Homo sapiens: one gene and its partners. The protein of the gene in region 2 binds, or shares a complex with, the protein of the main gene of each other region. Each region holds a gene or a part of one and is shown on either strand. Other genes may lie near its edges.

Region 1 (7,065 bases), on a different chromosome or scaffold from region 2:
CTGGCTTTGTGAACTTTGAGAAACTTGCCTAGCGTTTCTGAACTTTAGTGCCTTCTTTGTAAAATTGGTTACAATCCTCTAAAAGTTTTGTGGGGTTATTATGTGTTAATATAAAGAACCCAGTAAAGTATCTGTTATGGGTAGGCACTCAGAAAGGAAATGTTATTATTGTTATTATTTTTTTTGTTTGAGATGGAGTTTCACTCTTGTTGCCCAGGCTGGAGCACAATGGTGCAATCTTGGCTCACTACAACCTCTGCCTCCCAGGTTCAAGCGATTCTCCTGCCTCAGCCTCCCAGGTGCTGGGATTACAGGCGTGTGCCACCACACCTGGGTAATTTTTGTATTTTTAGTAGAGGCGGGGTTTCACCATGTTGGTCAGGCTGGTCTTGAACCCCTGACCTCATGTGATCCACCCGCCTCAGCCTCCCAAAGTGCTGGGATTACAGGCATGAGTCACCGTGTCTGGCCCTATTATTTTTAATAATACAATCATCACCTTCTTTCTTCCTTCTTCCTGCTTTTTTCTTCCTTTCTCCTTTGTTCCTTCTCCTGCAGTCTTCCTTCCTCTTCCTCCTATCTTCCTCTTCTTTCTAAGTATGTTCTTCCATTTCTCTATCTGCTTTTTTTTGGAGATGGAGTCTCGCTCTGTTGTCTAGGCTGGAGTGCAGTGGCACAATCTCGGCTCACTGCAACCTCCGCCTCCCAGGTTCAAGCAGTTCTCCTGCCTCAGCTACCCAAGTAGCTGGGATTACAGGCACCTGCCACCACACCTGGCTAATTTTTGTATTTTTAGTAGAGATGGAGTTTCACCATATTGGCCAGGCTGGCCTCGAACTCCTGACCTCAAGAGATCTGCCCACCTCGGCCTCCCAAAGTGCTGGGATTACAGGTGTGAGCCACTGTGCCCGATCTCACTACCTTCGTCTTCATCAAGAGATGATGAGACTATGAGCTAAGGCAGTAGCAGTGGGGCTAGAGAAGAAGAAAGGATTGCCAGAAATGTTAAGAGAAAAGAGTAGTCAAAAATTATCCAGACTTCTGGCTGTGTGACTAAGTGGGTGGTGGTGCTTTTCAATAACAGAGGCAATACAGAGGGAGGATCAGGTTTTGAGGGAAAGAGGATGAATTTAGTTTTCAGTATGTTGCATCTTGAGGTACTTCAGGACATCTAGGAAGAGGTATCCAGTAGGCATTAAATATAAGGGACCAGGTTGTAGGAGAAAGTAGAAGCACACAATAAATTGAGGAGTTGCTATCATATGAAGTCATTGCTGGAGCAATGTTAGTAGAAAATCACCAAGAGAGAGCATGTAAAACAGGTTTTTTAAGATTATATATGCAAGTGTAATGTGCATATTTTGTAAGGATATAACTTATAGATCAGTGAATTTTCACAAACTGAATATACCCCTGTAACTAGTACCCTTTCAAGAGAGAACATTACCAGCACTCCACATGCCCTCTTGTATAAAGCAGATGTTCCTAACTGGGTGTCCATGGGCTGCTTCAGTGGTTCTCTGGATTTCCCTGAAATTGTTTAATTGTTTGCAAGAGTTGTATATGTATACTTTTTTTTTTTTTTTTTTTTTTGAGACGTAGTATTGCTCTGTTGCCCAGGCTGGAGTGCAGTGGCACGATCTCGGCTCACTGCAAGCTCCGCCTCCCAGGTTCATGCTATTCTCCTGCCTCAGCCTCCTGAGTAGCTGGGACTACAGGCGCCCGCCACCATGCGTGGCTAATTTTTTGTATTTTTAGTGGAGACGGGGTTTCACCGTGTTAGCCAGGATAGTCTTGATCGCCTGACCTCGTGATCTGCCCGCCTCGGCCTCCCAAGTTTATGTATACTTTTTTTTTTTTTTTCCTAATGGAAAGATCTATAGCTTTCATCGGGCTTTTTTTTGTTTTTTTTTAGTGACAGGTTCTTGCTCTGTTGCCCAGGCTAGAGTGCAGTGGTGCAATCATATTAATAGCTCGCTATAACCTCAAACTCCTTGGTTCATGCAGTCCTCCCATCTCAGCTTCCCAAATAGCTAAGACTACAGGTGTGCACCAGCAGACCCACCAGACCTAGCTTTTCTTTCTTTCTTTTTTTTTTTTTTTGTAGAGATGGAGTCTGACTATGTTGCCTAGGCTGGTCTTGAACTCCTGGCCTCAAGCAGTCCTCCTGCCTCAGCCTCCCAAAGTGCTGGAATTACAGGCATGAGCCACTGTGCCCGGCCTCATCATAATCTTTTTAAAAGGGTGTTCACATCCCAATAAGGATGAAACTCGCTGGTGGAGTGAGAAGAGGTCTTAGAGCAAAACCTCAGCGGGACTATTTGAGATAAATTCTTGAACTCTTGAACACTATGTACTTACTCTATGCCTTGCTGGTTTTTTCTCTGATTTACTGTATCTTAGGGAATGTTTGTAAGACTAATTTAGCTTTTAGTTGTATAAAGAAATAGAGAAAGGCTATTTATTAAATGGTCTTTGAAACTTACACTACTAGCAATTACCAACCATTGGTCCTAATGTTAAAACTGCTTTTTAGAAGTTTTTATGAGTTTTTAACTAACCTCTTTTAGATGAACAAATCTTAAAATGTTTGTTTATTTTTGTGTAAGCCATGAAGTATTGTATACAGTATGTTTCTAATGTGCTGTTTTTAAACATCCAGATTTTGTCACCAGAAGTTTATCACAGACTTGTTCCTTTTTTAAATTTCTAATTTATATTTTCTAAATTTTTTTAATAGATGAAGGTTATTCTTTCAGCAGTGTCCTGTATTATGGAAATGAAGCTACTCTTCTTATTTTTGATCTGCTGTTCTTCTGTGTTGTGGATTTGGCTTGCCAAAATTTTATTTTAGCATCCTTCCTTACATATCTACAACAAGAGGTAAACTTTTAAAATTTTTCTACATTTTCCTTCATTTTCTTGAGAGAAATATGTTAGAAGTAGATATTTTCATAGCAGAGAGTAACAATGTCTACTTTTACTACAATTTTGTAAAGGTTTAGAATATGACTAACCCCACCAAAAGAAGGAATAACATTTCAACCAACTGTACTCTGTCCTTTAGGGTCAATGAAATACTGGGGTCTAGTGGAGGGCATAAGTTGCTTGATTATACATGGAAGAGGAATCCTATAGGAAGACACTTAACTGCTAGTCTCCTAGATGCTACAAGTGAACAGTAATTAGAGTCCCATCCACCCTCTCCAGACGTTAAGTAACAAAAAAACAAGCACTGGAGAGCTAGCTCAGGGCTCAGCACCAAAGCTTGCAGCTTTGACACCTCCCCCACCTGTGTGGATAAAAAGCAACTTCATGTATGAGTGTGGACCCTGAAATAGAGATTTCAAGAATTGGCAAATCTGTTCTTGAAATGGTGTTATTATCAACTAAATATTCTCCACTATGTCAAAGAAGTATATATAAGTAAGATGCAATTTATTAGTCCTTGACAGTGATCTAGAATTGTGAAGAAATTCTATCTCTAGTGAGTAGATTCTTTTGATGTTTCCGTAGTTTTAGACTTAGAAGAAAGTTGCCTTTCTATATATTTTAAAGTGTATTTCTGTGAACATGAGAGAATTTGTATTATTAATTCATAAGAATTTACTCTAAATGGGAACATACTATGAAACTATGAAAGAAATTATCATCTTGAAATAATTTTATGTATCACTATGGGATTCAGATACCTGATACATGAAAATAGTTGAGAGAATTAGCTAATTTAATCTAGATATTTTAATCGACGTGCATATTTAATTCTGTTTATATTTCTTTTCATTCTGAATTGTTTTAATTTTCCAGATTTTTAGATATATCCGTAATACAGTAGGACAAAAGAATTTGGCATCCAAAACATTGGTGGATCAAAGATTTTTGATTTAACTTCCTGAATAAATAACTTAAAGACTCAGTATAATCATGGCCAAAAAAAAGTCATGATATCAGGTTAGTTTGCCATATTTTTTAAAACTTATAATGCAGACTATTCTGTTTTTGTTTTTTATTTGCAGAAAGATTTATTTTTATAACTTGGGAATATATAACCTGATATAATAGAAAATACTGTTTTCCCATTGTGTGTAGTATTTAATGCAGTAAATAATAAATTAATACTGACAGTGAGGCCAAAAAAAATCTAAATGTTGCTTTCAGCATAATACTTTTTAATGCTAATTAAAACAGTCCCCATCATTTGTCTCTGTAGATTATTTTATAAACTGAGAGCTGCCTGAATCTTCTCACATTGACAAAGTAATTTGATTCCAAGTTTAAGACTAGTTTTCAGTTTGATATTTTCATGTTTTGTGTGCTTATGGTTAAATAAATGTTGAAAGATATTTTCAAGTTTACTTAGAAATTTTAAATTGTATTATTGCTGATTCAATTTGCATCATTCTAATTGCTCATCCTCTTTGGCAGTGGATTAATTCACTGTTGGGTTAATATGCATCTCATGAAATGATATCTTTTCATTCCTTTGTATACCTGTATTAGGTCAGTATACGCTTTCCATGAAATATATTTGCATTTCTAATATAGTTTACATTTATTAAGTTATAACGTATGACATTTTTCCCAATATCATTTTTTATACATTTTAATTACTTAATGTTTTAAGAGTTCTCTTCCAGAGTTTTGCTTTTCAATTACGTTTAAAGACTGTAAATAACAAACAGTAAGGCTGGGCGCTGTGGCTTACGCCTGTAATCCCAGCACTTTGGAAGGCCAAGGCACGTGGATCACTTTAGGTCAGGAGTTCAAGAACAGCCTGGCCAACATGGAAAACCCCATCTCTACAAAAAATACAAAAATTAGTTGGATGTGGTGGCCTGTAATCCCAGCTATTTGGGAGGCTGAGGCATGAGAATAGCTTGAAACCAGGAGGTGGAGGCTGTAGTGAGCCAGATAGCACCACTGCACTCCAGCCAGGATGACAGAGCAAGACCCTGTCTCAGAAAAAACAAAAACAAAACACTGTAAATGTATCATGTTTCTCACTGCTTTCTATGTTAATGCTGTGTAAATACTTAAAATGGAATACTGTATAAATATTATTTATATTTTCTCAGATGAAAATATATACTAAAACATTTGGTATTTCTGTTTTCTGTTTCATTAATGTATATCTGATGGAGTACCATTTAGGAATATAACATTATTGGGGCAGAGGTCCCAGCCATTGCCAAAGTTGAATCTTTTACATTTCCCTGAATCTTGAGGATGACTGAAAAGGAAGTCTTTGAAACTGCAGTTTCTGAAGGATCACAGTACAGGAATGCCTTTATAAAAGCTGCAGAGATAAATACATGTACTTATATGGCATGGATATTTAAAACCACTCACTCAGAAGCATATGAAAGAAATTCAACCATCATTCAACATAGAAGAAGTTAATTTTAGTGCAAAAGTTTTTAAGTATTAAATTTCACAATAAAGGATCAATTGGCTTACTTGCTGATAAATTAAAACAGAAAACATTTAAAATCATTCTAAATTTTGTATGATATTTTTATTTTGGCTAGGTGCATAAAAATGTGTTCAGATTTTCATACACTGTCGACTCCTTTGTTCACATTGTCACAATTTACATTTCCTGATCATGTGCATAATTATTCACTAGATTCATTACCCTTTGTCTATTTCTGTAGTACCCAATCACTATACTTTGACTCTTATATCCCTGATTTTACTGATTTTCTAGAAACATTTGATTTCTCTTCATTTCATAATGAAACAAAACCTAGAGAGGTTCTTTATAAGCTGTTGTGTACTTTGGATGCTCCTTAGAAACATACAGGCCCCTAAAATACTTCTGTAGACCAGTGCCTCTGTTATGGGAGATTTGTAAATGCTTCCTTCTCTGGCATTGCTGTCCTAACTGCCTTTTCAGAAGGCTTTGCTGATGACCTACATTGAGGAACATTCAAAATGATCATTAACTCAGCACTTACAAGCATGAAGCATGTGTTTTTTTTGTAAATATTGACAAATATAAGCTGAGGGGAAATAACTGTAAGTCAAGGAGCAGTGAGGAGTGTGGCTTAATGGAAAGTGCTCCAAATTTAGCAAAAGAAGCCCTGGATTCAAATTAGAATTTTGCCCATCACTCATAAGCTTTGGTATCTTGAACTAAGTCATTTGCCATCATTGAGCTTCATTCTACATCTCTGCAATGAAAATAATATCCTTTGCTTACCACTTGTTGTAAGGATTAGTTTCGTGGGTGTGTGTGTGTGAGACAGAGAGAGAGAGATGGGGTCTCACTCTTATCACCCAGGTTGGAATGCAGTGGCACGATTTTGGCCCACTCTAACCTCTGCCTCCTAGGCTCAAGCAGTCCTCCACCTCAGCCTCCCAAGTAGCTGGAACAACAGGTGTGCACCACCATGCCCAGCTAATTTTTTGTATTTTTTTTGTAGAGACAAGGGTTCACCATGTTGCCCAGGCTAGTCTTGAACTCCTGATCGAGAGATTCACCCACCTCGGCCTCCAAAAGTGCTGGGATTACAGGTGTCAGCCACTACACATGGCCAGGATTAGTTTCTTAGAATGTGCTTTTAACATTGAGTAAACTATGAATGCTGGAATTTTTATTTTTAGTTTAAAATATCTGCCCCAAAATATATTTTTTTCTTGCTAATAAATTAATAATATGATATTAAAACTCAGATTACTGATCTCAATAACTGACCAATGAAAATTCTGAGCCTGCCTTCTTCCTCAGCCACCCCCAGCTCTGCCAGGAAGAGGCCCAGATAGAGGTCACCGATAGATGTAAAACATAAAAGAAGACAACACCCCTGTGGGAGACACAGTTTGTGATAGAGGGTGGAGAGAACAGGAAGAGTGGAGTATTGTCTCTGGGAGGGAGGGTTTTTTTCATTTGCTCATTCATTCCAACAATGTTTCTACCTCTTCCCACTCCCCAGCCCCTCAGAAGGGTCTTATAATTTGTAAGAGAAAGAGGTAAATTAACCAGTAATTACAGCAATATGAAACGTGCTGCAGTACCGGGGTGTGATATAAGGAAAGCTCTTAACTGTACTTCTGGGTCATCAG
Region 2 (5,386 bases):
ATAAACGAAGGATGGAGGGCACTATGGGAAGTGCATGCAGATGACCAAGAGTTCTAAACTGGGCTGGGAGGAAAGCAAGGAAAGAGGGGCTGATGGTTGGCGAAAAGGGGCTGGGCCAGGAGCTTGGAGGGCCTGGTGGTTTGAAGAGCACAGGGAAGCGCCACATGAGGGAGGGCCTGGCCTGAGGGAGGGATGCCTCAATCCAGACTTTGGAGGCAGTGCCTTCACCAGTAACAAGAGATATGCCTGCCTGGCTGTGAGGGGTAGAGGTGAAGACAGACTGTTCCAAGTGAGGAGGTTGAGGAAGAGGCAAGGACACACCCCTGCTCTAGGCTCACCGCACATGGGGAGTGGGAGGAAAAAGATTCCACTTAAGAGGGCTGCAGGGTACTGAGTGGGCTTCAGTAAGGCCAGAAGGCAGAGGGAACTTCCTATTCCGAGAAGATGGAATCACAGGAATTTTGCTGACAACAGACGATGAGTTTCAGAACGCACAGTGAGTTGGGGGGAGGGCACGGGAGTGCTCGTGAGATAAAAGGCAGAAGAGGGTCGGCCCAGATGGTCTCAGGGCAAGTGCCATGACGACAGTCCAGGGCAACATGGGCGAGGCTGGGAGGTGGGGGTTTGCCAGGAGCCTGTGGTTTCTCTTGGATCCCGCTGAGGGCAGTATCTAGGCTGGGGCACCATGTCTGCCGAAAGCTCAGTGGCAGGGCAGAGAGGGCCTGGGGCTGCCTCGTGAGGTGCGAGGGGTTCTTGTGAAGGTGGGGAGGCCCAGGGTCAGGGCCTCCCAAAGTAATGCTGAAGGGGCTCTGCTTCCAGAAGGGCCTGGACAACCTCAGAGGTCAGGGTGTTGAGCCAGGGGGCTCACCTTCCTCTCCTGCCAAGGGGCTGCCAGAAAGCTGGACCCCAGCCAGCGGCCTCCCACCTCTGAGAGGTTTCCAGCCCCCATCCTTGGACTGTGGGTAGGGGGGCAGAGAGGGGAGTGGGCAGGCTGAGGGTCTGCCATCCCCCGGGGTACCTCACCATTCCAGCTCCCAATAACAGGGTTCTGTCCTTGCCAAGGGAGGCTGGTGGCCAGAAGCATGGCTGAACGGGTGATTCTACTTAACCCCAAGCCTCTAAGGAGGGTGCCATGCCCAGTTAGTTCAAGGAACAATGTGTTGCGGTATAGAAAAGGCCACACAGCTTTGAGTGGCAGAACCTGGTTATGTCAAAGCTCCCATCCCACATGCCATCCTGCTGCACGGTCTGGTCTCCTGGCAGCTTCCACGGCACAAGGGGTAGGGACAGGGAGAGCCCTGGAGGTGGGGCCAGGAAAGGCCCAAGAGCCCCCAGCTCCTGTGGGGGAGGGGCTAAACAGGAGAGAAGGCAGCCCCAGGCCTAGGCTCTCTGAAAATGAGACTTTATTATACAAAACTATTCTGTGTGCCCCCAGCTCTGGCCACCAGGCTGCCCCTCAGGCCGATGGGCAGCGGCTGACTTCGGGAAGGCAGCCCTTCATTATCAGAGACTGTGCAGCCTGTGGAGCCTTCACTGGGGGAAGCTCTGGGGTGGGCTGGGCCCCAACACACCCTGTGTATCAGAAGGCCCAGTGTCATAGCCCAGTTTCCTCATGTCCTTGGTCACCACGTTGAAGAGGAGGGTGACAAAGCCCTGAGAACGGACACGGGTCACTGGGGACAGAAGGGCAGCATCAGCCAGGCTGGGCTGGGGCAGAGAGAGACCCAGGTTGATCTGGGAATCTCAGCCTCAGCGTTCTCATCTGTAAAATGGGGACAACAGTGCCTGACCCAAGCCCCTCACTGGGAGGTAAAGGGGCTGCCGGGACAGGCAGACATGACAAACCCTCTGTGCTCCAACCAGGCCCTCATCTGGGAACATTTGTGGGCTAGCTCCTATGTGCCTGGCAGGTCCCCGGCATTCACCCCAACCCTGGGCCCACCCACTCCCAGGCTGTAACCTGTATGGGGGATGGGGGTAAGAGAGGGGAGGGAGCTTTACCTTCCCGGCCTTCACCCTGAGCCACCACCTTGGGGTCTGTGTACTCGGGCCGCCGCCCCATGAACCAGCTGGGAACACAGAAGAACACAGGTGAGCAGGGCCCCACCTGGGCATTCCTGGTCTTGGACGACACTGGATGTGGGCTCTCCTCGGTTCAGAAACCAGCACTCTTGTTCCAACCGCACCCCACCCCCACCAGGAGTCAGGCCCTAAGCAGAGCCTTCCCAGTGGCTGGGCTCCAGCGTGGGGTGTCCCTTGCCGAGGTCACACAGCCTAGCCAGGCCTCATGTGCTCTGCAGCCACGCTGCCTCCGCTGGCCGGTTAGGCTTTTCCATCTCTGGCTTCCATGGGTTTGGTTCACTGGGAATGAGAGCTCAGGAAGATTCTGGGGTGGGGGTGCTACCTGAACCCCCAGAAATCCCAGAAAAGTGACAGCAGCTGAGGTGGGGGAGGGGAGGGGACAGTGTGACCCTCCAGCCTCCCTGGAAGGGGGTCCCACCCCAGAGAGTCTGTGGGGTGGGCAGAAGGGCCAGAACGGCTCCTCAGCCTTACCTCCCACTAGTGTGGGGTCCAGGACATGTCACTTCCCATCTTGGCACCCACCGCAGGCCCTGCCAGGGGCGGCACACAGCCACCAGGCTGAGCATGCGCCCTCCCCAGCCCCAGACCCCAGTTGGGCCAGGCGGGAGGCCAGGAGGCCGGGGGTGTCAGGCCCCGCCGCCGACACACCCACGCGAGCCGGAAACAACCAGGAGCACTATTCCCGGCCGGGTGGGTCCAGCAGCCGCGGGCTTCGCCCCGCCGGGACTCGCGGCCGCGCCTCCTCTGTACCACAGCTCCCAAGGTCCCCCCACGGACACACCCGGCCCCGAGGGTCGCTGGCAACCATGCCGACCCAAAAGCCCACGCACCGCCCTCCCCGCGGCCTCTCCGTCTCTGAGGTGGGCACCAGCGCTCACCTGGGGCGGCTGCAGAGGGGCCCAGGCCAGGGAGGGGCTCTCAGCTGCCGCAGAGTTGGCCTGTGGAGACCACAGCCAGGGAGCACTGCCCACCAGCCCCCAACCCCAAGGAGGGAGCCAGAGAGTGAAAGCCAGCAGGCGCTCCCCAAGGGGAAGGGATGGGCAGCCACAACCCCTGCGCCTCAGTTTCTCCTTTGGGAGAGCAAGACTCTCACAGCACCCACCTCACAAGAGGCTATGTATGAGGACTGGGGCCTGGGAGCATCCCCACTGTGCCCAGCAGATCCCATCCCGGAGCTCACATGGAGCTCCCGTTCCCACTGAATTTCTTTCCTGGGGTCCACCCGGGTGGTCTGCTTAGCTGGCTGGGGTTGGGGAGACAAGACAGGCTGTTCTGGGAGAGCATTCCAGGCAAGGACCTGAGGCAAGGAAGGACCCCTCAGACTGCAGGAACTGAGGTAGATGGGAAGCAAGTGGGCAGAGGCCATGAGGTAGGCAGGGCCCGACCACCGGCCTGGCAGCATTCTGGTTGAAGTTCATTCTGACAGAGACAGGTTCTAGCAGGGGAGGGGTGCAGCCCCAGTTGTGTTTTAGGAACACCGTTTTTCTTGCTATGTGAAGACTAGACTGGAGGGGTGGCAGCAGGCTGAATGACGGCCCCTCAAAGATAGCAGATCCTAGTCCTGGGAAACCGTGCACGTGACCTTATTGAGAAACAGGGTCACGTGCACTTTGCACAGATATGATTAGGCTAAGGATCTTGAGGCGACTATCCAGGTGGACCCTAAAGGCCAGGACTCGAGTGATGAGGCCACAAGCCAAGGAAGGCTGGGGCCACCAGAAACTGAAAGGGCAATAAACAGAGTCTCCCCTAGAGCCTTGGGAGGGAGCACAGCCCTGTGGTGCCTTTTCTGGGCCCAGTGACCTGGATTTTGAACTCTGGCCTTCAGCATACATTTCTGCTGTTTTCAGCTATCACATTTGTGTGTTTTGTTGCAGCAGCCACCGTGGGAAACGAATACAGTGGCCAAGAGTGTTTGGGGCAGGCCCTAGGCCAGCGCTGGAGGATGTGGGGAGAGGCTGGGAGAGGGGTGGGGATGACCGAGGTGTCAGCCTGAGCAAGGAGCCTCCATATCTGGGAAGATTCTGCCAATCAAACTGCCTTCACTAATCAGAACTTTCTCCAGTTTTTGTAATCCAAGCACATACTGCCTTGCCCAGTTGCGAGCCCCTCCACAGGGGCTGTGAAACCCTTTCCTCAGCGAGCTGTCCCCTGGAGGCCCAAAGTCCTCCTTGGAGCTGTGGGCGGTGGAACAGGGTGAATAACCCAGCCTGGATGGCTGTGTGGGTCCCCAGTCTCTTAGGCTTTCCCAACCCACTGATGGGCACTGCCTCGCTGCCTCCCTGACAGCCTGTGGCATGGGGATTGTCACCTCCAGGTGATACTGGCCCAGGTCATCTGGGAAAGAAGTCCTTTGCTACAGGGTGGCCTCCCAGAAGGACTCCTAGGGGCAGTAGGCACACAAATTCTCAGGCTGAGGCCAGCGGAGACCCTGCCCTTCCTCCCCTCCACGGCTCTCAGAGCTCAGTGAAGCATTCTCGGCCCTGGGCGCGATGCTGTCCCTCCACCCAGCAGGGCTCTGGCCTGGTCTCACGCCCAGTACTGGCCAGGCTCGCAGGGGCTGCTTGCCGGCTGCTGCCCTGGAACCCAGGGAGTCCTCCATGTTCCACTTGTGCCTCACTAATCTGCCGGTGGGCGGCAGAGGCTTGCTGCCCAACTGCGCTAATGGTCCTCGAGTCAGAAGGCCAGGGCCCAGCTGGCCCTCTAAGCTCCCACTTGGATGTGAGCAGGGGTAAGAGGCCTTCATGCTGGGGCTGCATCCAGGCATCCCCTGGGCCCTCCCTGCAGGCCCTTGTGTCCTGGCCCCTGCCTGCCTCCCTGATGTCTCCCTCATTCTGCCTGGCTTACCACTTACTGGCCACACTGCCGTCCTGGCCACACCACCGTCCTGGCTTCTCTAGCATGCTAAGCTCACGCTCTCCTCAGCCTGGCAGGCACTGTTCCCTGTGCCTGATGTTCTTCCCCGGCTCTTCCCTCCACACTAAGCCTCTGCGCAAATGTCAGCTCCGGCCAGAGACTCCCACATGTAAAGGCATTTATCATGATTACTGTTCCAAGGTGTCTGACTCATACTGCTATATCCTCTTGTTTCCCACCTTTTAATGTCACATTATGTCATGAGCATTTTTCCCATCTGACAAGAGTTTTTCCTCTGCTCCCTCAGACACAAAGATTTTTCACAGGGCACAGGGTAAAATCGCCCGGCCTTCTGCTGCTGGAACAGGGCTGAAGGGAGCCCCGTGACTCAGCACTCCCAGGGGACCTGTTTCTATTTGTCCTCAGTGGGTGGAGCAGCTTGCAGATC
Region 3 (7,344 bases), on a different chromosome or scaffold from region 2:
CCAAATCTTGTGATACTTTCTTTAGTTTGACCAAGAGTGAGGAAAGAGAGTCATCTTGTTCTGCTACTGTCTGTTCCATCTCAGCCAGACGAATAAAATGCTTGTTGGTAGGAACTGGAGTGGGAGACTGTTTCATTAAATCCTATAAAATATGAATATATTAGCAATAGGCATGTATAATTCAATGCCATACTTATTCCATATTTTTAATTTGGTTCCTCAAATGATCAAAATATAATATCTAATCTAAAATGTAATGATTTAATAGGCAATGAAGGCTTAAAGAAGACAGGAAATGCAGACTTTATTATTTGTATTTACAATAGCTAGCAAAATGTCTGCACGTAGCAGGAGATCAATAAGTGTTGACCGAATTAACGAGGTAATGCTCAAATATGCTAAGGTTACACATTAAAAGATGAAAGACATGTCATTTCATACATATGGAACAGAATGGTCAAAAGAGGCAAATATGAGCTGAATTCTGGAAGTTAGATATAGCTAAACTCACAGTGAGTAGAATTTGAAAAGAAAGGCAGGTAGGTTCATAGCAGATTGAGTACATGGCTAAGAATTATAAATATAATTTTGTGAACAGCGGTGAGCTACAGGAGGAAGAATGATCAGAGCTATGTTTTCAGAAGATTATTTTGGCAACAAAAAGGGTAACTTCCATTCCAAAAAAGAAGAGAGCTGAATTTTAATTTACATGGTCACAAAAATCAATAAAGAATGGAACAAAGTTCTTAGAATCTTACCCAAGCCGTTTGTTTGAATTTATTTAGTGAACTATCAGCCTGTAGTTCTAATCTGTGATGAAGAATATGAAGGTCTTCCTCATGTTTCTTCACAATTTCTCTTTGCTCCTGTTTTACAGAAAATCGAAACTATATCTTAAATTGTGATTAAAACAAATTCACATTTTGAAGACCTTATATATTTTCTCTTCAATCTTCTAAAATTCCTTTGAGATGAGGAAGAAACAGTATCTCCATATATGTATGTATCTAGACTGGTATGCATGTCCCCTCAGACAATGTTCAAGTTGACAAGCCCAGCCTCAGTTCATAATTTATTCTTAACATTAGAATGACATGTATCTATCATCTTTTAACTTACTTCTAGAAAAAATTAAATGTTAGCTTTCCCCCACGAAGTTCTAACAAATCTGATTTCTACTGATTACCGGTGTGATATATTTCATTCCACCCTATTGCCTCAATCCTCACCTATAAACTCAATTAAAATATTTTTCAAAATCATATGATTTCACCATGATAGCTACTCGTGGTTTAGTCAGTGTATAATAGAAAGATACATGTACACAAACTTCCAGTTTTACTGACAGAGGTGTAATCCAATCACATGCAAGTAACAATTCTTAAATAGAATCATTTGAAAGCAAGAAAAGAAATACCACTTTAGGGTAAAATAATATTTAGCATTTGCTTAAAAAAACTAATGGATAACAGCATAACTCATAATATAATAAAATACCTCTCTGGCTTTTTCTAGAAGACGTTGATACTTCTTTAATACTTCTTCTTTTTGATTTAACCTTGCTTGCATGTTTGCAATGGTTTGATGAGCAATTTTCAATGTGTGGTGAGATTTTGGTTCCATCTCTTTTCTGCCTAGCTCAGCTATGAGCTTTTCTCTTTCTGCAGTGGCAGGCAATCGAAGCCTCAGTTCATTGATTACTTTGTCTCTTGACAGTATATTTTGTTCTGCTAACCTTAAAGCAGATTCTTTCTCTTTTAGTTTCTGCAATGATTAAATTATAATAAATCATTAAAGTATCTTTTTCCCTTTAAAATGCTTCATCTGAATTTTAGATTAGTTATTAGCCAAAAAAAATTCACTTTATTTTTCACATCATATGTACAATAGCCATTTGATACTTAATAAGGTTAAACTGACTAATTCTAATTGACAGCAGTTATTTGCATGCTTATTTATAAGACTATTACATATGCTAGAAACTTCATTGTTATGATGAACATAAAATTTAATTAAGGTACTTTATTGAGATATTACAGTTTAGAATTATACATGTATGGTGGTACTAGATTTAGGAAGAATATGTAATAAATTATTTCTTTTATTTTGGTCCATTGACTAGCAGAGCATTAGGAGACTAATCTATAAGTCAGTTAAGTACAAAACTGGAATTTTAGAGGCCCAACTCAATAAATTACGAATATAAAATCCGCAGCTTATTAAAACAAAGAGAAAAAAACAGAAAAATTTTTACTCTTCAAGAGGATTAAGGTGAGTATTTTAAATTAAGTAATTCAATGGCAATTCACATAAATGACAAATCTTAAAATTACTGAAGAAAATCTACGTTTCCTGAAATGATTAAAAATGTACAGTTTTACTTGAAAAACTTCTTTATGTATATTTTAAATGTATTTGCAGTTTATTTAGATGAAAACTAAAATGAAAACACATTCAGTTTACATTATTTTCTGAATAATTTAATGAAGATGACAGATTTGATCACCTACTAATCAAATTCAAGATCTAGGTTAAAACAGAAAGTAATTTCTAATTTACCTTCAACCCTTTAACCATGCATTAAAGGCAATGAACTGAAAATTGATTCATAGATTATGTAACATGCACTTCAAAATAAAACCAAAAAAGTAAGAATAAAGAGATCATATAAGAGAATATATTGCTCATAGAACTACAATTAAATGCTTTTTATTTCCTTTCATATTCAGTGTACCGAAAGGTACCAACTAATAATTAAATAGTGAATTCAAATTAACTATATCTGCTGTTCATTATTGGCTATTAGAAACATTATAGGAGAATAGAAAAATAGTGAAATTAGCAATAGATTCATCATTCTATGCATTGCCCTCATAAAGAAATATTATTTAGAAAGCCCCCCAAACATACCAAATAATACACTAATCAAAATGCAAATTCTTCTAATTACCTCTTCTAGTGATTTGCAAGTTGCCCGTGTTTCTAGAATTATTCGAATGTTCTCCTTAATTTTCCTTAGAGCGATCTCAAGTTGATTTGGAAGGGGCAAACTAGGGTCAGGGATTGATCCTGTAGCTTCTTCAAACTATTAAGAAATAGTATGTTTTTTAAAAAAGCAGTTGCAGCATTGAGAGTAACTATTAATTTTTACAGCTGTATGATAAAACATAGATTAAACCCCTCTTATATTTTAAATATACAATATAACATCAATTAAAATTACATCTGATACAGGAAATATTTCTGTGAGTTAACACTCTAGACTATGCTACAGAGTAACAAACAAGATTAATCATTCATACCTTTTGTGCCGCATTTAGTATTTCATTTTGCTGACGGTCAAAAATGTCTAGTTGGCGTTCCAGGTCAACTTCTCTTTGATCCCAGGCCATTTGTCTTTCTTCATGAAACTAAAAAAAGGACAATTTGTGTCAGACACATACACGAAGACATCAGGCACATAACAGGCATTTTATATATATTTTCTTATCTAATCCTCACAACACATTGAAGAAACTGTAATTATTTTCCTTTTATGGAAAAAAATACAAACTCAGAGAGGTGAAGTAACTTGTGTAAGATCACAAAGGCAGATGTGAAGTAAGGATTTCAGTCTATCCATCCATCCATCCATCCATCCATCCATCCGTTCAGCTATACGAAAGATATTTGATGACATATATTATGTGCCAAGCATCATTCTAGGAAATACAAACATGGCAGTAAACAAAACCAAGTCCGTGTCACCACGGAACTTGCATTCTGGCGAAGGAAAGACAGTCAATAATAAACCAGTAAGTATGTAATACGTCAGAAGGTTACAAGCACTTTGGAGAAAAATTAAGTTAATTAATCTCTATTTAGGAATCTGGATAGTAGGATTTACTGTTGTATATTAGGTGGCTGGTGAAGGATACACTGATAAGGTAAGACATTTGAGCTAAGACCTGCAGGCACTGACAGTGTAAATACCAAAGGTATCTAGGGTAAGAACAATTTAAGCAGGGGGAACAATCTCTGAGACAGTCATATGTTTGACGAATTTCATCTGTCTCTGAAGTATATACTTTATTCTATAAGAAGCTGACTTCTTACTCTATCAGTGAGAGCCAGTAGAAACGTGGAACTGTGAAAAGTCAAATAACCAATATCAAAATAAAAATTAACTTACCAAATGAGGTTGCTTATGTATTGCCGTTTTTAAGATTAAGACTACTGTTATAAAAGCTAAATAAATATGAATTTTTAGAATAGTTTAGAAAATAAAAAACAAATTATTATATAATCAATTAGTAATGGAAGGTGCACTTAATTAGAAGGATAACATAGTCATTTGTGCAATATTCTTGTTTAAAATCTTAGGGGCTCACGCCTGTAATCCCAGCACTTTGGGAGGCCGAGGCGGGCGGATCATGAGGTCAGGAGATCAAGACCATCCTGGCTAATATGGTGAAACCCCGTCTCTACTAAAAATACAAAAAATTAGCCAGGCACGGTGGCGGGTGCCTGTAGTCCCAGCTACTTGGGAGGCTGAGGCAGGAGAATGGCATGAACCCGGGAGGCAGAGCTTGCAGTGAGCCGAGATCACGCCACTGCACTCCAGTCTGGGCGACAGAGTGAGACTCCATCTCAAAAAAAAAAAAAAAAAAAAAAAACTTAGGGAAAAAAATGAAATAAATATAAAATAAAACCTTGTTCTGTTGCACAATTTCTTCTTCAAGACTGCTGATTGTACGTTCATATTCAGAAATTATGTTATTCAAATATTTTATTTCTTCTTTATCCTTGACTAATTCCCGATTTAGTTTAAGTTCTTGAAGACGAAGTTCTTCTATTTTCATATGCCAGTTGATTACCTAAGATTTACAATTTATATACACAAATATAAATGCTATATTAACAAATAACATTCCTCCATTGATGATAATGATTTTAATTGAAAGTAATGGCCATTCTAAAATAAAATAAGACACAATGTTATCTTTTGTCAAACTACATGACAAAATCTTATTTAGGATTTCCATAGACTTTTCTACAAATATGTGGGATTTTACAATAAAAATCTTCAAATTATGTTGGAATGGACATCACTAATATTCACTTTCATTTGTTATACGTTTATTGAACACTGACTATAAGCAGGTCATTGGAACTTTGGTATTACTTTCAAAAACAGAAATCCTAAATGTTTCTAGCCTAGAGAACAGGATGTAGTTGCAAGATAATTATTTTTCATTTAATTCTTTCTAAATGAAGATTAAACCATATTAAAAGTAAATGTGGGCCCACTACTTGTAGATCAAAGATAATTATGAACAGTAGAAATCAACTGATAACTACTACAATGTTTAAATATAATAATTAGTGTTTAATTAATATAAATTTTCCTATAGTAATTAAAATTCTTTGCTATTATACAATCTGAACATTCCCACTAAAATCTTTGGTTAGAAAAGCCTAATTTTATTTTTACGTATAATAGACATTCAAATAGCCAACACTGCTAAGTTATAAAATCTAAATTAATGAATCATAATTGGAATTTGTATCTTAAGCATTTTTCATATAGGCATATATTAAGAAATTATCATGTAACTCTTTTGAAGATAATGAATTTAAAATTGGCTGGGCACAGTGGCTCATGCCTGTAATCTCAGCACTTTTGAGAGACCAAAGCAGGAGGATTACTTGAAGCCAGGAGTTCAAGGCCAGCCTGGGTGACAAAGTGAGACCTTGTCTCTACAAAAAAATTTAAAAATTTTAAAAAATTAGGTAGGTATGGTGGTGTGCACCTGTACTGCCAGCTACAACTACTCAGGAGGCTGAGGCTAGAGAGTCCCTTGAGCCCAGGAGTTCCAGCTATGTTTGCACCACTGAACTCCAGCCTGGGAAACAGATCAAGATACTGTCTCTTAAAAAAAAAAATCAAGTTTAAATGTTTACCTTTTGGGCTCCTTTGGTATCCTTTAAAGTGCTTATTAACTCTTCCAGGCCCTTTAATTTTAATTCCATCTCCAATGTTTTGTTCTCCATATTTCTATGTTCTTGTTGAGAATTTTTCATTTCTTGCATTATCTTAAGTTTGTCATTTTGTAGTTGAATCATTGTTTTGGAGAACTTTTCCTGTTGTGCCAAGGGTAAAGCTCCACTAAACTGTCGTCGTAGAGACTGAATTGTTTGGCGCAGATGTTTTGCTCTGTTTCTTCCCTCCAAACGAGCATAATAGAGAGCCTGTTCTTTTTCATCAAGTTTCTGCTCTAAGCGCAAGTTGTAGGCCTCCATCTTCTGCAGTTTAGATGTAATTGACTCCAACTTACCAAGAGCAGTAGCCTCACTCAGTTGAAGAGAGACATTATGTTGGTGCAACTTGGCAATGAGCGACTTTTCATCAGACTGTGCCTGATATTAAAAAAAATATATATTTGTAGTAAGTTTCAAATTTTTCCAGTGAAAGTTATCACAGATTTAAAATTCACAATTTACTAAGCAAAGTTTTAACACAGTGGCACATGAGATCTACAAAAATGTAACTTTGCTTTAATACAAATAATTACCAAAGAACTGTAAAAGAAAAAACCTAGAATCAAACAAACTTAAAATCCAAATGTAACTGAATAACAGTGGGTATGTTACTGGTGTTTTTTTTTTTTTTTTTTGAGACAGAGTTTCACTCTGTCACCCAAGCTGGAGTGCAATGGCGTGATTTTGGCTCACTGCAACCTCCACCTCCCGGGTTCAAGCAATTCTCCTGCCTCAGCCTCCTGGGTAGCTGGGATTACAGGCACATGCCACCACGCCTGGCTAACTTTTGTATTTTTAGTAGGGACGGGGTTTCACCATATTGGTCAGGCTGGTCTCGAACTCCTGACCTCGTGATCCGCCTGCCTCGGCCTCCCAGAGTGCTGGGATTACAGGCGTGAGCCACCATGCCTGACTGTTACAGTTTTTTTTTAACCTCCATTGCAAGTAACATAATACTGATCAGGACAATGTGTATGTTTTTATAATTCCCAACATATATAACGTAAGAATATGTAAAAAGTTACATATAAATACAAGAGAAAATATTGTTATTAAAGATTTACTAACTACAATTCTCAGTGTCCTAATTTTGATCAGCAGCATAATTCATCTATAGGCATTTAAATGCTGTACTGGATTACTGAACAATATTTCAAATTAAAGAGCTTTCTAATCAGGTTCCAACTAACAAGAATAACAGCCTCTGGTTGGTATATCTTTTGATTAAAAATGTAACAATGGCCCAGCATGGTGGCTCATACCTGTAATCCCAGCATTCTGGGAAGTCAAGGTGGGCAGATCATTTTAACCCAGGAGTTTGGG
Region 4 (9,337 bases), on a different chromosome or scaffold from region 2:
CTTCTCTTCACTTCGCTTCTCTCTTCTTCTCCTCTCTTTTCTTTCATAGTGGCAGATACATAACTATAAGAGAGCATTGGCTTGGTCCTCCAAAGCTAGCAGTTTGGTGGGAGTTACAGAACATTTTACCAGGGTGAAAATTCAAGGTTGAGGTAGAGGGAGCTACAAAGATTAAGGCACCCTGGAAGCACAGAAGAGAAGTTCTTAAATGCCCTTCAAGGTGAGAATGCTCTCTAGAGAAGATATCATTTGCCTTTAAAGGATAGTGAGGAGTTTGTTAGAGAGACAAAGGAGGAAGCACATTTTTCAGGGGAGGGGATATGTGTGTAATGATACAAAAGCAAGAGAGAACTTGGCACACGTGAAGGCCTGCAGGTAGTTTCACATGTCTGGAACACAGTGGATGTGTGAAGGGGACATTTCATAAATGGCCTTGGACCTCACTGGTAAGGACTTGATATTTTTTTCAATGTGCGATTGGGAGCTAGTGAAGAATTTTAAGCGAAGAAACGACACCATCACATTTGAATTTTAGAAAATTACACTAGTTGCTGTGTAGATGATGATTTTTTTTTTAAGGGAAAGGTGATAGCGGCGTGGAAACAATCTTAAAACAAAAAGCATAATCCTTCCACAGTGTTTTTGTCCCTCAGAGTTACTGTCTCATGTCACTGCCTTTGGGGGTGATGGGAAGACAGTTGGAAGAATTCTGTAAAGAATTGTCTACATGTCCCTTCTACAGGTGTCACCTTCCATTCATTCCTTAGCCCCAGCCTGCTAAGTTTCTGCCCCTCTATAAACAGCTTTGACACACGTGACTTCCTACTTGCAGATTCAGTGGACTTTCTTCAAAACCTCCAGCCCCTTTTGATGCCACACAGTATATAGGCAACATCTCCTTTAAAACTTGGGTTTGCTTCTGTAATGCTTCTATCTCCCAGTTTTTCACCTATCTCCCTGATTTTACTTTATATTGTAGGCTCACAGGATTCTCATTGGCTTTTTATTTTCTTGGAACTATCATATTTATAAATAACTCCCAAATCTTCAGCCTATTGTCTCCCTGCTGGATTAGTAGATTGCCTAACAAACATAATATGATTATATACGTAAACACACACACACGTGACAGTAATAACAGTTGTTGTTTTTGAAGGGCTTGCCATGTGCTAGGCATTGTGCCTAGTATTTTATTTGCATATTCTCATTTAATCTTTATAAAAACACTGTGAGTGATTTACTCTTATTATTGTGAAAGATTAGGAAGTTGATATCCATAGAGGTGAATCTGCTGGCAGATAGAACTGGTATTTGGATCCAAGGATCTGAAAATGGAGCTGATGCTTGTAGCTGCTCAGTGCCCTTCAGATACCCAACTCAACATGACCCATACTAAGCTCAGTGACTGCACCCTAACAACCTGTTACAGTTATAGCTAACATTTATTGTTGCTTCTTCTGTCTACGGTACTGTTCTAAATCATTTAACCCTTACAACAACCCTTTGAGTCGGCACTGGTAGGGTGTTTTTATAGATGAGGAAACAAAAGTCACGCAAGTGACTATGGAAACTAATTCTAGGACATGGATTTTAAACTACTGCCCTGTACTGCATTATATTACAGTGTAATGATACTACTAATCTACTTATTCTAGTTCTAGAAACATGGGAATTATCTCCGATTCTTTCTCCTGCCTCTTCATTAGTTATTTAATCTTTCTAAAATATTACCTCACTCCATCACCTGGAGCGCACTGGTGCAGTCTTGGCTCCCTGCAACCTCCACATTTCAGGTTCAAGCGATTTTCCTGCCTCAGCCTCCCCAGTAGCTGGGATTACAGGCACCCACCACCACGCCTGACTAAGTTTTGTATTTTTGGTAGAGATGGGGTTTTACCATGTTGGCCAGACAGGACACAAACTCCTGACCTCAAGTGATCCACCCGCCTTATCCTTCCCAAGTATTGGGATTACAGACATGAGCCACGGCGCCCAGCAGGCTTTTTTTTGATGAATCATAGTCATAATATAGGTCAGCTTTTTCCTGGCCTATTAGATGACCATCGAGTAGTATAAATATTAAATTTTTATTTGTTTTATGATTTTTCTACTTCCGTGCTCTCAGGTTTCAATTACTCATGCTGTCATTGCACTTGCCTTTGCAGCTTCTCTTTTCTAATTTAATATAGACTAGAAAGTAGAAGACTAGATTTATTAAATTTATAACTGCTAGAAGGAGTAAATACAGGCTCCTATCACTAAAGTATAGGAATTTTTACTCCATGGATTTAGTGATGTCTGTTTTGACTGGGTGCCACGTAGTTGTTGCCTAAGTTAACTGACATAGTTAGGTATGTTTACATAATCATTCCTTTCTTTTTAGAATTTCTTAGACATTTCTGCAAGAGGAACATGAATGTGGATGTCCAGGGAATTGGAGCATTAACCAATAATGCCTTGGGCCCAGTGTGGTGGCTCACGCCTGTAATCCCAACACTTTGGGAGGCTGAGTCGGGCAGATCATATGAGGTCAGGAGTTCAAGACCAGCCTGGCCAACATGATGAAACCCTGTCTCTACTAAAAATACAAAAATTAGCTGGGTGTGGTGGCGCACACCTGTAATCCCAGCCACTCGGGAGGCTGAGGCAGGAGAATCGCTTGAACCTGGGAGGCGGAGGTTGCAGTGAGCCGAGATCACACCACTGCACTCGACAAAGGGAGACTCCATCTCAAAAACAAACAAATCAATAATTCCTGAACCAGCTTTTTTTTTAACACTCTTCAGTTTTAGTCTCAAAAACATGCATATTACATTCTAAATGTTCTAATGTGAGAATATGTTCATTTTAGACATACACCGATTTTTTTAATAAAATGGGCAATTTAGTAATATACATACTGAGTTGAACCATGGTTTTGAGTAGTTCTGACACAGTAATACACATCCAGGTTTTATTAAAGAAAGATGGTGCAAATATTTGTACTATCCTTCTCTATTGTAGCAGAATTTTCAGTGGCAGACACAGAGGTATTTAAATTCACTGTGAGTGTGCTACCCACAAGCATGCTTTAATGTAATATTGAATGCTCTTAGGAAAGTCAATCCTGAGATGGAGTTTGGTTTCTTAAAAGTGCGTTGAAATGTTCATTAATGTATTAAAACACTTTAAAAAGTTTATTAACATACCACATTAGATGTGCACTGCCTTCAAAATGTTTTTTTTGTTTCAAATATATAAATACTTTATTCAGATATGATCTAGTTTGTTTCCCTTGATTTTAGAGCCCTAAACTGATTCAAATGTACCCAAGTCATTTGCATAAGATTGGGTTAAGGGAACATAGCTTTATTGGTATAAACTTAATGAAGTAGTGGACATACAATGGCATGATCTTGTGTGAAGAACGTTTTATAATTTTTATTTGGAAGTTCCATATTACAAATACATCTCCTTTGTTTCGATAGGATCCTGATTGAGTCAATGCTTTGCATTCTCAGTCCTCTGCATAAAGCTGAGAGATGCCTACAGGTAAGACTTCTATGAAATTTATGTATAAAATTTATATTTTATACATTTACTTTTAAGTTTGGTTTATTTTAAGGGATTCTTGAACAGATTAATGAATACAGTAGATGTCATTGACCAAATATACTACATTTAGAGATACTTATTGGTTTTGTATTCAGTTTTCTATTTAATATTGTGATTAAGGTTAGTATGTATTTAATGGATGGTAGTTTGGGACTCAGATGGACAAGGTAAATAATGATTACAACATAGGGTTAGTTTTTATTCTTTATCATCAAAATTGAATGTTTTACTCCACCACAAGCATTGGCAATCTTTTCTAAAAGGGCTAGCTAGTAAATATTTTAGGCTTAGTCTCTGCTATAACTGCTCAACTCTGTCTCTCTGTCTCTTTTAAAGCATGAAAGCAGTTATAACAATTCTTAATCAAATGGGTATGTCTGATTTCAATAAATCTTTACAAAAACAAGTGACTAGCCTGCAGGCCATAGTTTGCCGACACTTGCTCTAGAGCACCCATTCATTCAGCATTTATTAATTTAAAACATAATGACTATGTACACTATGTCAGACCTCATAATAGTAGCTGGGGATGTAGTTATGGGGGAAACAGAAAATATGTTTCTTTATATAGATATAAAAATAATTATATAATTTCCATTTGGGTTGAGTGCTGTGAAGGAAGAGAACAACCTGCTATGTGAGAAAAGGGAAAATTAGATGAGTTTGTCAGGAGGTGTTTTATTTACAGGCAGCATTTAAACAGACAGGTTAACACCAGCCAGGTGAGGAATTAGAGGAAGCTTGCCTCAGAAACAGCTTCATGTGGGAAGGAGCTTGCTGTGACGGAGGAGCTAAAGGAAGGGTATTATAGCTAGAACATAGGCATCTAAGGGGATATTTGTCTTGATTTGAAGCCCTGGAGATAGATCAGGAGGTATGGAGCCCTGTAGGGCATATAAAAGACTTATTTTATCCTAAATGTATTGGGAAATTTTCAGGGGCTTAAGCATTATCTTCTTCATGTTTTAAAGGAAAAACCTGTTAATATTTGTGGAATACTGATTACAGGCTAGGCACACCTTAGCCATTTTTCATGCAAAATGATCTTTGGCATAAGATAATTGTGATTTTACAGATAAGGAAAATGAAGTTTAGAGATCTTGAGTAACTTGTCTAAAGCCACATAACACGTAACTAACAGTGGTAGATGCTACTGTTTATCAGAAATAAAAAGTTAACTTAGCAAAGGAGACTTTTAGAGTGAGTGGCCAAAAAGGTCAGAGGGATACAGGTGAATGTTGTGTCACTAAAGTCAAAATAAAAAATATTTTAAGAAGGAAAGATAGGTGAGTTTTTCTAATGTAGCTAGAGAACTCATGCCGATATTTACAAGAACTTATTTCTTAACATCCTAGTAGTGTAGGTTGTGTGTTATGATAGAGTCATTTACAAAATCACATGGCTGTATCTTTTGTAGCTGAGAGTGAAGCAAAAGTAAAAACCAAAGTTCGCTTTGAAGAATTGCTTAAGACCCACAGTGATCTAATGCGTGAAAAGAAAAAACTGAAGAAAAAACTTGTCAGGTCTGAAGAAAACATCTCAGTAAGTAAATGATCATTGGGTAATAGTGATTTACATATGCGCATAAAATGCAGATATGGCTGCATTTTATGTTAAAATTCTAAGGAATTTTGAAAATTAAAAACAGTAACACTATGTCATGGTCAATAACATGTGGTAAAAATAAAGTTTATATTAGAATCAACATCACTGTGAGAATATTGACTTCATTCTTGAGTGCTGTCCTACAGGAAGAACACACACACAGTGGGGAAAATGACCAGAGATAGTGGGGAAACTCAAAACTAGCCATGATAACATTTTTGAAGAAAATATTTTTAACCCAGAATTGTGAAGAACTTAGGAAGTAGTATCTTAACTTCAGATATTGAATAGCTTGTGCTTATTTAAACTATTTCTGTGTGATTCTACCCAACAGAACCAGGAGAAATCAATGGCCGTATGGTAATAATTATCCTTTTATGTTTGAGGCACACTTTCAAATGATAGAATCTTTGGCAGCACACTTGAAGGAATTAAAAATACAGTGCTCAAAGACTAAGCAAATCAGCAACTAACTACAACCTGATCCCCTTGGAATCATAAAGAGTCTGTATTGGCATCCACAGTTAATGCTCTATGCCCTCTTTATACCTATCTCCCTACTTGAGTTGCACTTTTTACTACTTTGACCATTATCTCTTCTGTCCTCACAGAAAAAAATAAACAGGCTCTTGTGTAAATGGTACATAGTTTTTTTTTTTTTTTTGGCAGGAGTTTTATAATGAGTTATAATCCTACATTTTGCTTGTAGTAAGATTTACCCCATTTTTTCTTAAGACCTGTTCATTTTAGTATTCTGTCTGGCAGATGTCAATGTAACAATATAAATTCTGAAGTGAGGCAAAAACAAGTAGTAAAATTGACCAAAATCCAGCTGCACATATGTGAGGGTTCATAGTGTATACACTGGTGTACGACTGCACAAAAATTTCGAACTACTGACAGAATGGACAGATTAGCACTCCCATAGTGATTGCTGCTCTGAAATAGCATGTGCTTTTTCTGGTGGTACTAGTGCACAATATGGTAGGGAATAGTGACATGGAGGATGAAACATTGCTTATTGATATATGCGCTCCCCTCAGATGGAGTGGTTTATGTTGGGCAAAAGCAAAAAGAACCCTGGAAACAGTTGTCTGCAGAGATGTTTTATGCTCAGAGAAGAACCTCATATTGTCTCTTAGTATTAAAGAACTGGGAGTTGTGAGCCATGAACAAAATGCAATTTAGACCAAGGTTTAAATTAAATGGATAATCAGAATAGGCAGAGGCTATGTCCATTTACCTAAGGTCCAGTTTAAATGTTGAGGGGCACATAAGTGTGAGGTGACTAAGCATAATTTATCCAGCCTCTCTTTGCAAACACCAGGACTGAATAGGCTTCTTTTCTTTCAGAAATAAGTACACTAGGAACAAATATTTGGGAAGATATTTCGCAGCTCAAAAGAACAGGAATATTTCTAAAGGACTTAGAGGAGAACAAAATATTTTTGACATGATTAACTTGAGGAAGTAAAAGAGGAATAGCTGCTTTCATTTGCTAGATGCCTTAATGCTTTCTATCTTTAGGCACTCTTCTAAACACTTTATATATATTTAGTCGTTTAATACAAACGACGAAATTACAGGGTTTTATTTCTGTACAGGAGAAAACTACATCAGAAGTTAAGTAACTTGCTGAAAGTTACATAGTAAATGGTAGAACCAGGATTCAAACACTGAGTGGAAGTGCAGAATCCACTGCCTTAACCACAACCCAATATTATCTATTTTAATGAAATTTGAAAAGATAGGACTTCTTCTTGAAAGAAGAACAGGGAGTCCTATGTACAGAACAGGCTGAGATGAGAAATGGAGCAGTCTGAAATAAAATTAAGCGAGGAAAAAAGTCAAAATAGGGATTCATAATAATGGCAGGTTCATCTTATATTCCAGTTATATATAAGGCACAATAATAAGAGTTTTACAAATATTATTTCTAAATCTCATGTTAATCATGCAAGATAGATATTGGGATTCTTTTTTTGCACATGAGAAATTTTATAAACAGACAAACAGACATGTTAGGTGATTTCCTTAGGTCATTTAGTCTAAAATAGGATAAGTGGGATTTAAGACCACAGTCTCTGCAATTTTAAAGTTCATGTTCTTCAGTTGCTTCCTTAAAACTATATCTCAGGCCTAAAATGATGGAATTGACACTACGGAAAAATCTAATCAGTGAAGTGGGAGACAAATTCGAGGTGGGAAGAAATGACCAAAACTAAAATGAAAGAAATAAATGATGAGGACATAGAAAGATATTTGACCCACAAATAAGTATCCCGGGACAGTACTAGTGGAGCAGAAACAATAATGAGCATGATGAAGAAACCTTGCTGAGATTTCTGAAGAGATGAGTCATCCTGCATTCCAGGCAAAATTTATGAGATGAGAACTATATCTAGAAAATTCTTTTGTTTGTATCTTAAGAGTCAAATATTGCAGACACCTAAACACAAAAACATATAGTACATTTGAGACTTCTCTGTAAAAACACTAAATCCAAAAGACAATGGAGAAATATTTAGAGCACTAAGAGAAAAATTGTAGCCTGAGGAATCTGGTCACCTAAGTTGTCAGTCATTTGTGATGGTAGTTGTAAACATATGTGCATTATTAGAGAAATATCAGTGTTCCCTCCCTGGAAAAAAAAAAAGATTTAAGATTTATTAAAGATGTAGTACCATTTCTAGATATGAATCAAAGTTAAGAATTTAAGAATAGAACATCTTAAGATCTTAGAGGAAGGGATGAAGAGAAGTTGGTTAAGGAGTACAAAAATATAGTTAGAAGGAATAAGTTCTAGTAGTCAGTATTACAGTAGGGAAATTACAGTTAATAATTTATTGTATATTTCAAAATAGCCAGAAGAGAAGATTTATGTTCCCAACATAAAAGATAAATGCTTGGAGTAATGGGTATCTCAGATGCTCTGATTTGATTATTATACACTGTATATGGTGTCAGAATATCACATGTACCCCCAAAATATGTACAACTATTATGTATCAGTTAAAAATTTTTTTGATGGGAAATTTATGATCCAAAAATACCATTGGATGAACTTTGAAATCAGTTAAATATGTAGAACTTTCTTAATTATTATATATGTCCAGAATAATTCCTGAAGATTTTACATTAGATATATGTATATGATAATGTGAGAGAACAGAACCAAATTGTTTTCAAAGATTGAGCAAAGCATCCTAGCTTAGGAAGAAAAAGTCACGTAACCATTACTCTTGTCCCTAGCGTATAGTTAAAAGTTATTATTTCATCCTAGAGTTTGAAATAAATAAAACAAGTATATATATAAAATAGATTATTACACTTTCTAAGTTGTCAGAGTTAAAAAAATTAAGTGAGTTTTTTTAAAAGAATGTAATGAAATAAGAAATTTAAGTAAGAGCAAACTGAGTCATGACAATAAATGTAAATAGTTTAAGCTTCCTATTTTAAAAAGTGGGTTCAAAAATAGACTTTTAAAATATCAGGACCAGGCATGGTAGCTCATGCCTGTAATCCCAAGACTCTGGAAATCCAAGGTGGGAGAATTGCTTGAGTGCAGGAGTTCAAGACTAGCCTGGGCAACATAATAAGATCCTGTCTCTCAAAAAATAAAAACTTACCTGGGCATGGTGGCATGCGCCTGTAGTCCTAGCTACTTGGGAGGCTGAGGTGGGAGGATTGCTTGAGCCTGGGAAGTCGAGGCTGCAGTGAGCCATAATCATGCCACTGCATTCCAACCGGAGTGATAGAGGGAGATCCTATCTCAAAAATAATACTAATAATAAATAAAATAAAATATCAGGTATTTTACTTGCAAGATTCACACATTAAACAAAATGACATAAAGTTTAAAAGTAAAAGTGTGCAAAAATATAGACAGTTGTCTATGTTTTTCTTCCTGAAAAGAAACTTATAGCTGTCTCATTTATGAATGTGTGTTGAGAACAAAAAACTCTATATAAATATATGAACACATTGAAATTAATCTTGTTAAAAGAATAACCTATCTCAGCCAGATAGTTCCCCCCAAGAACTGCTTAATAATTGGATATCAGTCAATATTAAGATGTTAGTGCAAATAAATTGAATAAAACCATATAATATAAAAATAACAAGGAAAAAAGCTATC

The links.
Region 1: B9D1 (region 2) and TMEM67 share a complex: the UniProt entries of both Homo sapiens proteins name them as parts of the tectonic-like complex.
Region 3: B9D1 (region 2) and CEP290 share a complex: the UniProt entries of both Homo sapiens proteins name them as parts of the tectonic-like complex.
Region 4: B9D1 (region 2) and AHI1 share a complex: the UniProt entries of both Homo sapiens proteins name them as parts of the tectonic-like complex.

Annotation. Positions count from the first base shown.
Region 1 is NC_000008.11:93,812,565-93,819,629, forward strand, and holds the end of TMEM67 (meckelin isoform 1 precursor), read left to right. Parts: intron 1-2,740; coding exon 2,741-2,883; intron 2,884-3,807; coding exon 3,808-3,888; 3' UTR 3,889-5,557; downstream 5,558-7,065. UniProt on the Homo sapiens protein: Required for ciliary structure and function. Part of the tectonic-like complex which is required for tissue-specific ciliogenesis and may regulate ciliary membrane composition.
Region 2 is NC_000017.11:19,341,789-19,347,174, forward strand, and holds the end of B9D1 (B9 domain-containing protein 1), read right to left. Parts: coding exon of another isoform or gene 5,351-5,386; exon of another isoform or gene 5,162-5,350; intron 2,787-5,161; exon of another isoform or gene 2,718-2,786; intron 2,070-2,717; coding exon 2,002-2,069; coding exon of another isoform or gene 1,674-2,001; coding exon 1,531-1,673; 3' UTR 1,387-1,530; downstream 1-1,386. UniProt on the Homo sapiens protein: Component of the tectonic-like complex, a complex localized at the transition zone of primary cilia and acting as a barrier that prevents diffusion of transmembrane proteins between the cilia and plasma membranes.
Region 3 is NC_000012.12:88,083,089-88,090,432, forward strand, and holds part of CEP290 (centrosomal protein of 290 kDa), read right to left. Parts: intron 6,400-7,344; coding exon 5,944-6,399; intron 4,857-5,943; coding exon 4,692-4,856; intron 3,411-4,691; coding exon 3,303-3,410; intron 3,086-3,302; coding exon 2,951-3,085; intron 1,765-2,950; coding exon 1,498-1,764; intron 867-1,497; coding exon 759-866; intron 143-758; coding exon 1-142. UniProt on the Homo sapiens protein: Involved in early and late steps in cilia formation. Its association with CCP110 is required for inhibition of primary cilia formation by CCP110.
Region 4 is NC_000006.12:135,486,422-135,495,758, reverse strand, and holds part of AHI1 (jouberin), read left to right. Parts: intron 1-49; exon of another isoform or gene 50-220; intron 221-3,467; 5' UTR 3,468-3,521; coding exon 3,522-3,531; intron 3,532-5,011; coding exon 5,012-5,136; intron 5,137-9,337. UniProt on the Homo sapiens protein: Involved in vesicle trafficking and required for ciliogenesis, formation of primary non-motile cilium, and recruitment of RAB8A to the basal body of primary cilium.